Homo sapiens: one gene and its partners. The protein of the gene in region 1 purifies or fractionates together with the protein of each later gene. This does not show direct contact. Each region holds a gene or a part of one and is shown on either strand. Other genes may lie near its edges.

What was found.
Region 2: the proteins of ZNF556 (region 1) and MTHFR purify together in Homo sapiens (affinity purification with mass spectrometry; one large-scale study listed by BioGRID and IntAct). This does not show direct contact.
Region 3: the proteins of ZNF556 (region 1) and ASAH1 purify together in Homo sapiens (affinity purification with mass spectrometry; one large-scale study listed by BioGRID and IntAct). This does not show direct contact.

The regions. Positions count from the first base shown.
Region 1 is NC_000019.10:2,880,639-2,884,103, forward strand, and holds the end of ZNF556 (zinc finger protein 556), read left to right. Parts: 3' UTR 1-2,807; downstream 2,808-3,465. UniProt on the Homo sapiens protein: May be involved in transcriptional regulation.
Region 2 is NC_000001.11:11,795,931-11,799,589, reverse strand, and holds part of MTHFR (methylenetetrahydrofolate reductase (NADPH)), read left to right. Parts: intron 1-3,190; coding exon 3,191-3,384; intron 3,385-3,659. UniProt on the Homo sapiens protein: Catalyzes the conversion of 5,10-methylenetetrahydrofolate to 5-methyltetrahydrofolate, a cosubstrate for homocysteine remethylation to methionine. Represents a key regulatory connection between the folate and methionine cycles.
Region 3 is NC_000008.11:18,055,485-18,057,951, reverse strand, and holds the end of ASAH1 (acid ceramidase isoform a preproprotein), read left to right. Parts: intron 1-328; coding exon 329-418; 3' UTR 419-1,960; downstream 1,961-2,467. UniProt on the Homo sapiens protein: Lysosomal ceramidase that hydrolyzes sphingolipid ceramides into sphingosine and free fatty acids at acidic pH.

The DNA of each region.
Region 1 (3,465 bases):
GGTGCCTGTAGTCCCAGCTACTCGGGAGGCTGAGGAAGGAGAATGGCTTGAACCTGGGAGGCGGAGCTTGCCAAGATTGCGACACTGCACTCCAGCCTGGGTGACAGAGCGAGACTCCGTCTCAAAAAAAAGAATTATACTTCTGAATTAATATTACCAGATGCATTCAGATTTAGACATTTTCTTTCTAGTACATTTGTTTCCTATACTGTTATAATTTTGTCTAAGAAATTCTTTTTTTTTTTTTTGAGACAGATTCTCGCTCTGTTACCCAGGCTGGAGTGCAGTGCCGTGATCTTGGCTCACTGCAACCCCCCCGCCAAGGTTCAAGTGATTCTCCTACCTCAGCCTCCTGAAGAGCTGGGATTACAGGCACCCGCCACCACACCCGGCTAATTTTTGTATTTTTAGTAGAGACGGGGTTTCACTATGCTGGCCAGGCTGGTCTCGATCTCCTGACCTTGTGATCTGCCCACCTCGGCCTCCCAAAGTGCTGGGGTTACAGGCGTGAGCCACCGCGCCCAGCCTAATAAATTCTTGTTTATTCATAATGACAAAAACTTACGTAACGGTTTTATAAATTTAAGTATTAAATAAGTCTAGCAAAAGACATAAAAAGATAACTAATAAAACAAGTTTAAACTTTATTGGAGCCCAGTAGCAATGGCTCACGCCTGTAATCCCAGGACCCACCGAGGCGGGTGGATCACCTGATGTGAGGAGTTCGAGACCACGCTGGCCAACATGGTGAACATGGTGAAACCTTGTCTCTACTAAAAATACAAAAAATTGGCCAGGCGTGGTGGCAGGCGCCTGTAATCCCAGCTACTTGGGAGGCTGAGGCAGGAGAATCGCTTGAACCCGGGAGGCAGAGGTTGCAGTGAGCCAAGATTGCGCCACTGCACTCCAGCCTGGGCGACAAGAGTAAGACTCCATCTCAAAAAAAAAAAAATTTTTTTTTTGGATAATATCAAGGCAGAATAAAGTATAGTATCAAACTTGACAAGGTAGATAATAGGGAATGCAGAATAAAGGATCGGGCTTCAGTAAGTGACAATCTCATCATGAATTCATTTATAGTTCCACCATGTAATATGTCTTAAATACTATTTCTTTTTTTTTAATACTATTTCAAGAACTGCTCATGAGTTAGGAAATAGTGAGCAGTAATACAGAAATAACGGCAGGACCAGGGGCAGTGGCTCACACTTGTAATTCCAAAGCTTCGGGAGGCTGAGGCAGGAGGATCACTTGAGCACAGGAGTTCAAGGCCAGTCTGGGCACATAGTGAGACACAGTCTCTATAAAAAGAAATTTTTAAAAGTATCTAGGCATGGTGATGTGCACTTGTAGAGCCAGCTACTCAGGAGGCTGAGGGTGGAGGATGGCTTGAGACCAAGAGGTCCAGGCTGCAATGAGTTATCTTGCCACTGTACTCCAGCCAGGGTGACAGAATGAGACCGTGTGTCAAATTAAAAAGAAAAAAAGAAACAATAATTATTTCCCTGGCCGGGCGCGGTGGCTCACGCCTGTAATCCCAGCACTTTGGGAGGCTGAGGCGGGTGGATCACGAGGTCAGGAGATCAAGACCATCCTGGCTAACCCGGTGAAACCCTGTCTCTAGTAAAAAATACAAAAAATTAGCTGGGCGTGGTGGCAGGTGCCTGTAGTCCCAGCTACTCGGGAGGCTGAGGCAGGAGAATGGCGTGAACCCAGGAGGCGGAACTTGCAGTGAGCAGAGATCGAACCACTACACTCCAGCCTGGGCGACTGAGTGGGACTCTGTCTCAAAAAAAAAAAGAGACAAAAGGTATATTTATGGTTCAGCCTCATTTCTGCAAATATTAAAAATTTTAGGGCATGATGTATACATTTTATATATATATATATATAGTGTGTGTGTGTGTGTGTGTGTGTGTGTGTGTGTGAATGTGTGTGACGGAGTTTTGCTCTGTTGCCAGGCTGGAGTGCAGTGGTGCGATCTCAGCTCACTGCAACCTCCACCTCCCAGGTTCAAGCGATTCTCCTGCCTCACCCTCCCAAGTGGCTGGGAATACAGGCGTGCCCCGCCACGCCCAGCTAATTTTTTGTATTTTTAGTACAGGTGGGGTTTCACCTTGTTGGCCAGGATGGTCTCGATCTCTTCACCTCGTGATCTGCCCGCCTTGGCCTCCCGCAGAGCTGGGATTACAGGCGTGAGCCACCGCACCAGGCCCATGTCATATGTTTTTATGAGTTTGGACATTGGCATCTGGGACCAGGTACTTCATCTGGATTTGAACCACAATGTGGGTGTTTGTTTTTAATACCTTTGTGAAATAATTTTAAATTGCCTTATATATTTGGCATTGTCACTTTGCTGCCCCTACACACTGATGGAAAAATTGTGTTCTGCAGAAAACTAGAGTTCCTCACAGGGTGAGGAAGAGTTATGGTCATCTGCACAGTTGTAGCCCGTTGCGAGTGTTTTCCCATGTGCACAGTGATATCTAGGCAAGTGTGCCATGATTTCCTGGTGAGGATAAAATCTATGGACGGTGAGAGAACTAGTCAAGGAATAACTGAAGTGAGCTGCAGACAGGATTATCATTTTGAGTAACATCCCAATGTATTTGTCATCCTTTAATTAATTTTTATTTTTTTAATTAAAAAATAATTTTTAAGTGTAAACCTTTAATGATCCACAAAGCCCAAAATGTCCATTTGATTTTCATAGGTATCGTTTCCATATGCTTAGACTTCCAGCAGCTATTAGAAGAGAAAAATATGTAACAGCTTTGTGTTTAATTAAAGGCAAATGAAATCCAGTCTGTGTCCATTTTCAATGTTAATAGTCTTGATAGCGGGCCGGGCGCAGTGGCTCACGCCTGTAATCCCAGCACTTTGGGAGGCTGAGGTGGGCAGATCACCGGAGGTCGGGAGTTCGAGACCAGCCTGACCAACATGGAGAAACGCTGTCTCTACTAAAAATACAAAAATTAGCTGGGCATGGTGGTGCGTGCCTGTAATCCCAGCTACTTGGGAGGTTGAGGCAGGAGAATTGCTTGAACCCGGGAGGCGGAGGTTGCAGCGAGCCGAGATGGCGTCACTGCACTCCAGCCTGGGCAACAAAAGCGAAACTCCACCTCAAAAAAAAAATAGTCTTGATAGCACTGCAAAGACTTCGTGTCATTTCACAATCACAGTTAGCTTATTTGATCACTCCTTCCCTACATTCCTCTCATTGTACAAATTGGTACCAGATGGAAAGTGCTGACTGTGAGATGTCCAGGTTCTTGACGCATTGAACAAAGAATTGAACAAAACACACAAAGCAATGACAGCGCAGATTTATTTAAATGAAAGTACACTCCACGGAGCGGGAGCCGGCCCTAGCGGGCAGCTCAAGAGCCCTGATTGCAATGTTCTTTAGGGTTTTTATAAGGCTACAAGAATTTTGTAACACCCCTAGGTGCCCTTTAGAGA
Region 2 (3,659 bases), on another chromosome or scaffold:
GGCAGGGAACCCAAGATCAGGAGATGGCCTCAGACCTCACAAGGCACTGGAAGAGGTCAAAAAGCAAGGCCCTCCCTCATTCCCTCTGGGGCCACAGGGTCCCCCATCTCCGCTTCCCACTGCACATCTGTGCTTCATCTGGGAGACCTGATACCCATGCTTTTCCACACACCTGGCCTGCTCCTGAGTGTGCAGAGTGTCAGTTCCAGCCAGTTCCCCAGGCTAATGGACAGGCCTCCGTTCCAAATTCCCAGGAAAGAGAATCACCATTGGCCACAGCCACAAGACCAGGTTCCCCCAACAGAAATGGGTGGGTTGGACTTCTCTCCCACCCTTGAAGCTGAAGGCTGGCATTGAGCCCTCAGCGTCTCAGACAGCGCTCAGGTATGGCAAGACAGTGTGCACCAGGGACAGGAAGTCCCGGGATTGGCACATTTTCTGGGATGACAGTTTTTTTGCCAATATTCTGGGAGAAATCCTACCATTTTTATATTAAACATGGCTATGTTATGGAGTAGCATCTAAAGTGATATGAACTAAAAAAAAAAGGCCAGGTGCGGTGGCTGAAGCCTATAATCCCAGCACTTTGGGAGGCCAAGGCGGGTGGATCATGAGATCAGGAGTTTGAGACCATCCTGTCCAACATAGTGAAACCCCGTCTCTACTAAAAATACAAAAATTAGCCGGGCATGGTGGCGCGTGCCTGTAGTCCCAGCTACTTGGTAGGCTGAGGCAGGAGAATCGCTTGAACCCAGGAGGCGGAGCTTGCAGTGAGCCGAGATCGCACCAATGCACTGTAGCCTGGGCAACAGAGCCAGACTCCGTCTCAAAAAAAACAAAACAAAAAACCCAAAAAACAAACCACGTGGCTTCAAGAAAATTACATGTTGTGAGTAACTTTGGCCTTGTCCCTAACCCCCGATGGACATGTCCATTCTGTCAACAGGGGTGTTTAGGTGCTAAGTCTGGGAAGCACTGATTAGGAGTCAGAGAACAGACATTTCCAACTGTTAAATTGTCATCGCTTGTATCAGCCATTATATAGTCAGTTACTGGGGGAATATGCACCCGTGATGGGCGTTAGGTGATAATGATTGGAAACTAGTGAAGCTGTGAGCTCACAGTTGCTGAATGGTTTCTTACTTTGCTTATCAAGTGGGTAATGAAGATGAGTGGATTAGAAAACACCAACCTGTTGGGCATGGTAGCTCATGCCTGTAATCCCAGAGCTTTGGGAGACTGAGGCAGGAGATCAAGACCAGCCTGGGCAACACAGTGAGACCGTGTCTCTACAAAAAATAAAAACATTTTAAAAAAGAAAGCCCTCAGCTGTTCATGATAGAAAAATAGAGTAAATAGCAAAATCTATACGTAATCAAATGCTAGATTTGTTCGGTGATATTTAGGTATTGTAGCTATACTTTTCAGCTATTAAAAAGCCTTGTTGTTTCTGAAATTCCTACTGGGAAAATAGCTTTGTTATTGCAAGTGTGAAGCCCCATTGCTTTATCCCCCACTCCCTTACCCCTTGAAACAATAGTTTTTATATTCATTTTTTGATGACTCTGGGTTTCTTAAGAACGGAACTGCCTTATCAGAGCAAAGCAGCTTGGCCTTCCGCCTGGCTCAGAGTCCTGCCCTGGGCTTGGGCTGATGAAACCAGCACTCCATGTAGTTTCATGAAGGCCTATGGTCATCCTGCTTGCCTGACCGAGCAAGGCGGCTAGTAAGTTTAGTCATTGAGGAAAGGGGTCAGAGAGTTCACAGAGCCAGTAAGGAGCCTATGGGACATCTGATCCCACCTCCTAAGCAATTCTGGAATCTTGTCTTCAGCATCCACTGCCCCTGTGTTTTCAGACTCCAGGAGCTCATTGTTTTGTGAGTGGCTTATAGTACTCTAGCCAGCTCTCTGAACCGGATGCTGGTTCTGCCATTAGAAACAACACAGAATATGACTAATAAAGAACTTCACTAGGGGGCTGGGTACAGTGGCTCATGCCTGTAATCTCAGCACTTTGGGAGGCCAAGGTGGGAGGATTGCTTGAGCCCAGAAGTTCCAGACAAACCTGGACAAGATAGCAAGACCCCATCTCTAAAAAATAAATAATTAATTAAAAAAATTTTTTTTAATTAGCCAGATGTGGTGGCTTGCATCTGTAGTCCAAGCTACTCAGGAGACTGAAGTGGGAGATCACTTGTGCCCGGGAGTTCAAGGCTACAGTGAGCCATGATTGTATCACTGCACTCTAGCCTGGGTGACAGAGCAAGACCCTGTCTCTGAAACAAAACAAAACAAACTCACCTATGGTGGATCCTTTTTCCCCAGGACAGACCTTTGGACATTTGAAAGGAGTTTCTGTATTCTTTTCATTCTTTTTTTTTTTTTTTTTTTTGAGACGGAGTTTCGCTCTCGTTGCCCAGGCTAGAGTGCAATGGTACGATCTCGGCTCACTGCAACCTCTGTCTCGTGGGTTCAAGCAATTTTCCTGACTCAGCCTCCTGAGTAGCTATTACAGGCATACACCACCACACCTGGCTAATTTTTGTATTTTTGGTAGAGACGGGGTTTTACCATGTTGGCCAGGCTGGTCTCGAACTCCTGACCTCAGGTCATCCTCCTGCCTTGGCCTCCCAAAGTGCTGGGATTACAGACATGAGCCACCGCACCCTGCCATCCATTATTTTCTTTGAAGAAAACATCACTTTCTTCAGTTCTTCCTTGTGTAACTTGGTTTTTAGCTTTTCACTATCTTGGACCCCTGAGTAATTTCAGTGTTACATTAAAAACAATGTTTAATCCGGTGCCTAGAGAAAAGTCAAGCTTACTACCCCAGATGCTGCCCAGCCAGTGCTAACTGTAGCATTTTCTCTTTTCTATGGCCACCAAGTGCAGGCCTGATTTGCTTGGCTGCTCAAGGCAGGACAGTGTGGGAGTTTGGAGCAATCCACCCCCACTCTTGGAACTGGGCTCTGAGCCACCTCCCCTGAGAGTCATCTCTGGGGTCAGAAGCATATCAGTCATGAGCCCAGCCACTCACTGTTTTAGTTCAGGCTGTGCTGTGCTGTTGGAAGGTGCAAGATCAGAGCCCCCAAAGCAGAGGACTCTCTCTGCCCAGTCCCTGTGGTCTCTTCATCCCTCGCCTTGAACAGGTGGAGGCCAGCCTCTCCTGACTGTCATCCCTATTGGCAGGTTACCCCAAAGGCCACCCCGAAGCAGGGAGCTTTGAGGCTGACCTGAAGCACTTGAAGGAGAAGGTGTCTGCGGGAGCCGATTTCATCATCACGCAGCTTTTCTTTGAGGCTGACACATTCTTCCGCTTTGTGAAGGCATGCACCGACATGGGCATCACTTGCCCCATCGTCCCCGGGATCTTTCCCATCCAGGTGAGGGGCCCAGGAGAGCCCATAAGCTCCCTCCACCCCACTCTCACCGCACCGTCCTCGCACAGGCTGGGGGCTCTGGGTGGAGTGCTGAGTTCGCTGAGTTCTTCCCAGATCTCCTCTCAGGTCCAGAACTTGCACAGCGTTGCTTGGCCACCCCATTTTGGTTACCTCTAATTTTCCCCCCAAAACCCAGCAACAGTGTCTGTTGAGGGGTTTGTTGTACTTTGGCCAACAAGCATCACCAAAAGGGATTCTAATTCTCATTACAAATCCTG
Region 3 (2,467 bases), on another chromosome or scaffold:
TTGGGGGTGGAGCAATGTGCTGTCAGGAATAAGCTCCTATAAGGAGCTGGAGATTCTTTCCTGAGCCTGTTTATATTCATTACCTGAAACAGTGATCCTGTTGAAGTTGTTTGCTTTAGTTATTTGGTGAGACTTTAGCTAATTTTATATGATTATACTATATTAATATAAATATATACATTATATAACATGCTTTGCATATATTAAGTTATATTATTTAATATTAAATAACTTCTAAAGCAAATTCTACAAGTATAGAAATGCTAATATATATCAGAACATCTCTGAATTGAAAACGTCCTTAAAGTAAAAATAACTTTTCTTTCAGCTGACCGTATACACAACCTTGATAGATGTTACCAAAGGTCAATTCGAAACTTACCTGCGGGACTGCCCTGACCCTTGTATAGGTTGGTGAGCACACGTCTGGCCTACAGAATGCGGCCTCTGAGACATGAAGACACCATCTCCATGTGACCGAACACTGCAGCTGTCTGACCTTCCAAAGACTAAGACTCGCGGCAGGTTCTCTTTGAGTCAATAGCTTGTCTTCGTCCATCTGTTGACAAATGACAGATCTTTTTTTTTTCCCCCTATCAGTTGATTTTTCTTATTTACAGATAACTTCTTTAGGGGAAGTAAAACAGTCATCTAGAATTCACTGAGTTTTGTTTCACTTTGACATTTGGGGATCTGGTGGGCAGTCGAACCATGGTGAACTCCACCTCCGTGGAATAAATGGAGATTCAGCGTGGGTGTTGAATCCAGCACGTCTGTGTGAGTAACGGGACAGTAAACACTCCACATTCTTCAGTTTTTCACTTCTACCTACATATTTGTATGTTTTTCTGTATAACAGCCTTTTCCTTCTGGTTCTAACTGCTGTTAAAATTAATATATCATTATCTTTGCTGTTATTGACAGCGATATAATTTTATTACATATGATTAGAGGGATGAGACAGACATTCACCTGTATATTTCTTTTAATGGGCACAAAATGGGCCCTTGCCTCTAAATAGCACTTTTTGGGGTTCAAGAAGTAATCAGTATGCAAAGCAATCTTTTATACAATAATTGAAGTGTTCCCTTTTTCATAATTACTCTACTTCCCAGTAACCCTAAGGAAGTTGCTAACTTAAAAAACTGCATCCCACGTTCTGTTAATTTAGTAAATAAACAAGTCAAAGACTTGTGGAAAATAGGAAGTGAACCCATATTTTAAATTCTCATAAGTAGCATTCATGTAATAAACAGGTTTTTAGTTTGTTCTTCAGATTGATAGGGAGTTTTAAAGAAATTTTAGTAGTTACTAAAATTATGTTACTGTATTTTTCAGAAATCAAACTGCTTATGAAAAGTACTAATAGAACTTGTTAACCTTTCTAACCTTCACGATTAACTGTGAAATGTACGTCATTTGTGCAAGACCGTTTGTCCACTTCATTTTGTATAATCACAGTTGTGTTCCTGACACTCAATAAACAGTCACTGGAAAGAGTGCCAGTCAGCAGTCATGCACGCTGATTGGGTGTGTACATCTGTGTTGGTTTGGAGGAGGGGGGTTATTATCAAGAAATACAAGCTGAACATCGTATCTGAATTAAATAACAAGGGTTATGTAAGTGGGTTATTAAATATGACTAAACGGTCACAATCTTACTCTTACATGACTGATACCACCTCTTAACCAGATACTATCAACCCAATTTGCAGGTGTTTAAAGGCAGTTTTTCCCCCAGATAGGTGGTGCTTCCACAAAACTTTAGTGATTCCAAGATTACTTTAGTGAAACGAGGAATTATAAGAGGATTTACATTAAAATAGGATTTAATTAATGAAAAAAAAACTTTACTCAGATTTTCTACCTCTTACATAAATGAAGTCAGGTCAACTTGATGTATTTTTTTGTTAATGTAATAACCTTTGATATGCCTGATAGTAAAGAGGTGAGATGCTAATTGTTTCAGACCGATTTCTCCGGAGTAAATCAAAGTTTACAAGAAATAACAGGTATTAAGATTTTAGGAAGTAATTGTTTAGTGGTAAAGCAGTTTTAAAATAGGATATACAGGATGAGCCTGTTTATATAACACTTTATATATGTACTTATGCATAACTAGATACACATCTAGAATATCAAAAGATGACTGGGAGGATATTAACCAAAATGCTGACTGTAGTTCCTACTGGATAATGGCAAGTGCTATTTTAATTTTGAGAGGACAAAACTTAGTAGCCATTGGACATTAATGAGACTCTATTTTTAGAAATACTATAAAAAAATAAGGTCCAGGTTGGATCCAAACCATGGGCTCCATCTAATTTCCCTGCCAAGTTTTCGGGAGTTTGATTGTGAATGGAAGGCTGAATCCTACCTGTATTCCTTCACACATCGAGCTCCTCAGTCACTCATCTTAATTAGAGCTCTTGCTTATCCATTTATGTACCAGGCCTTGTGATTGATA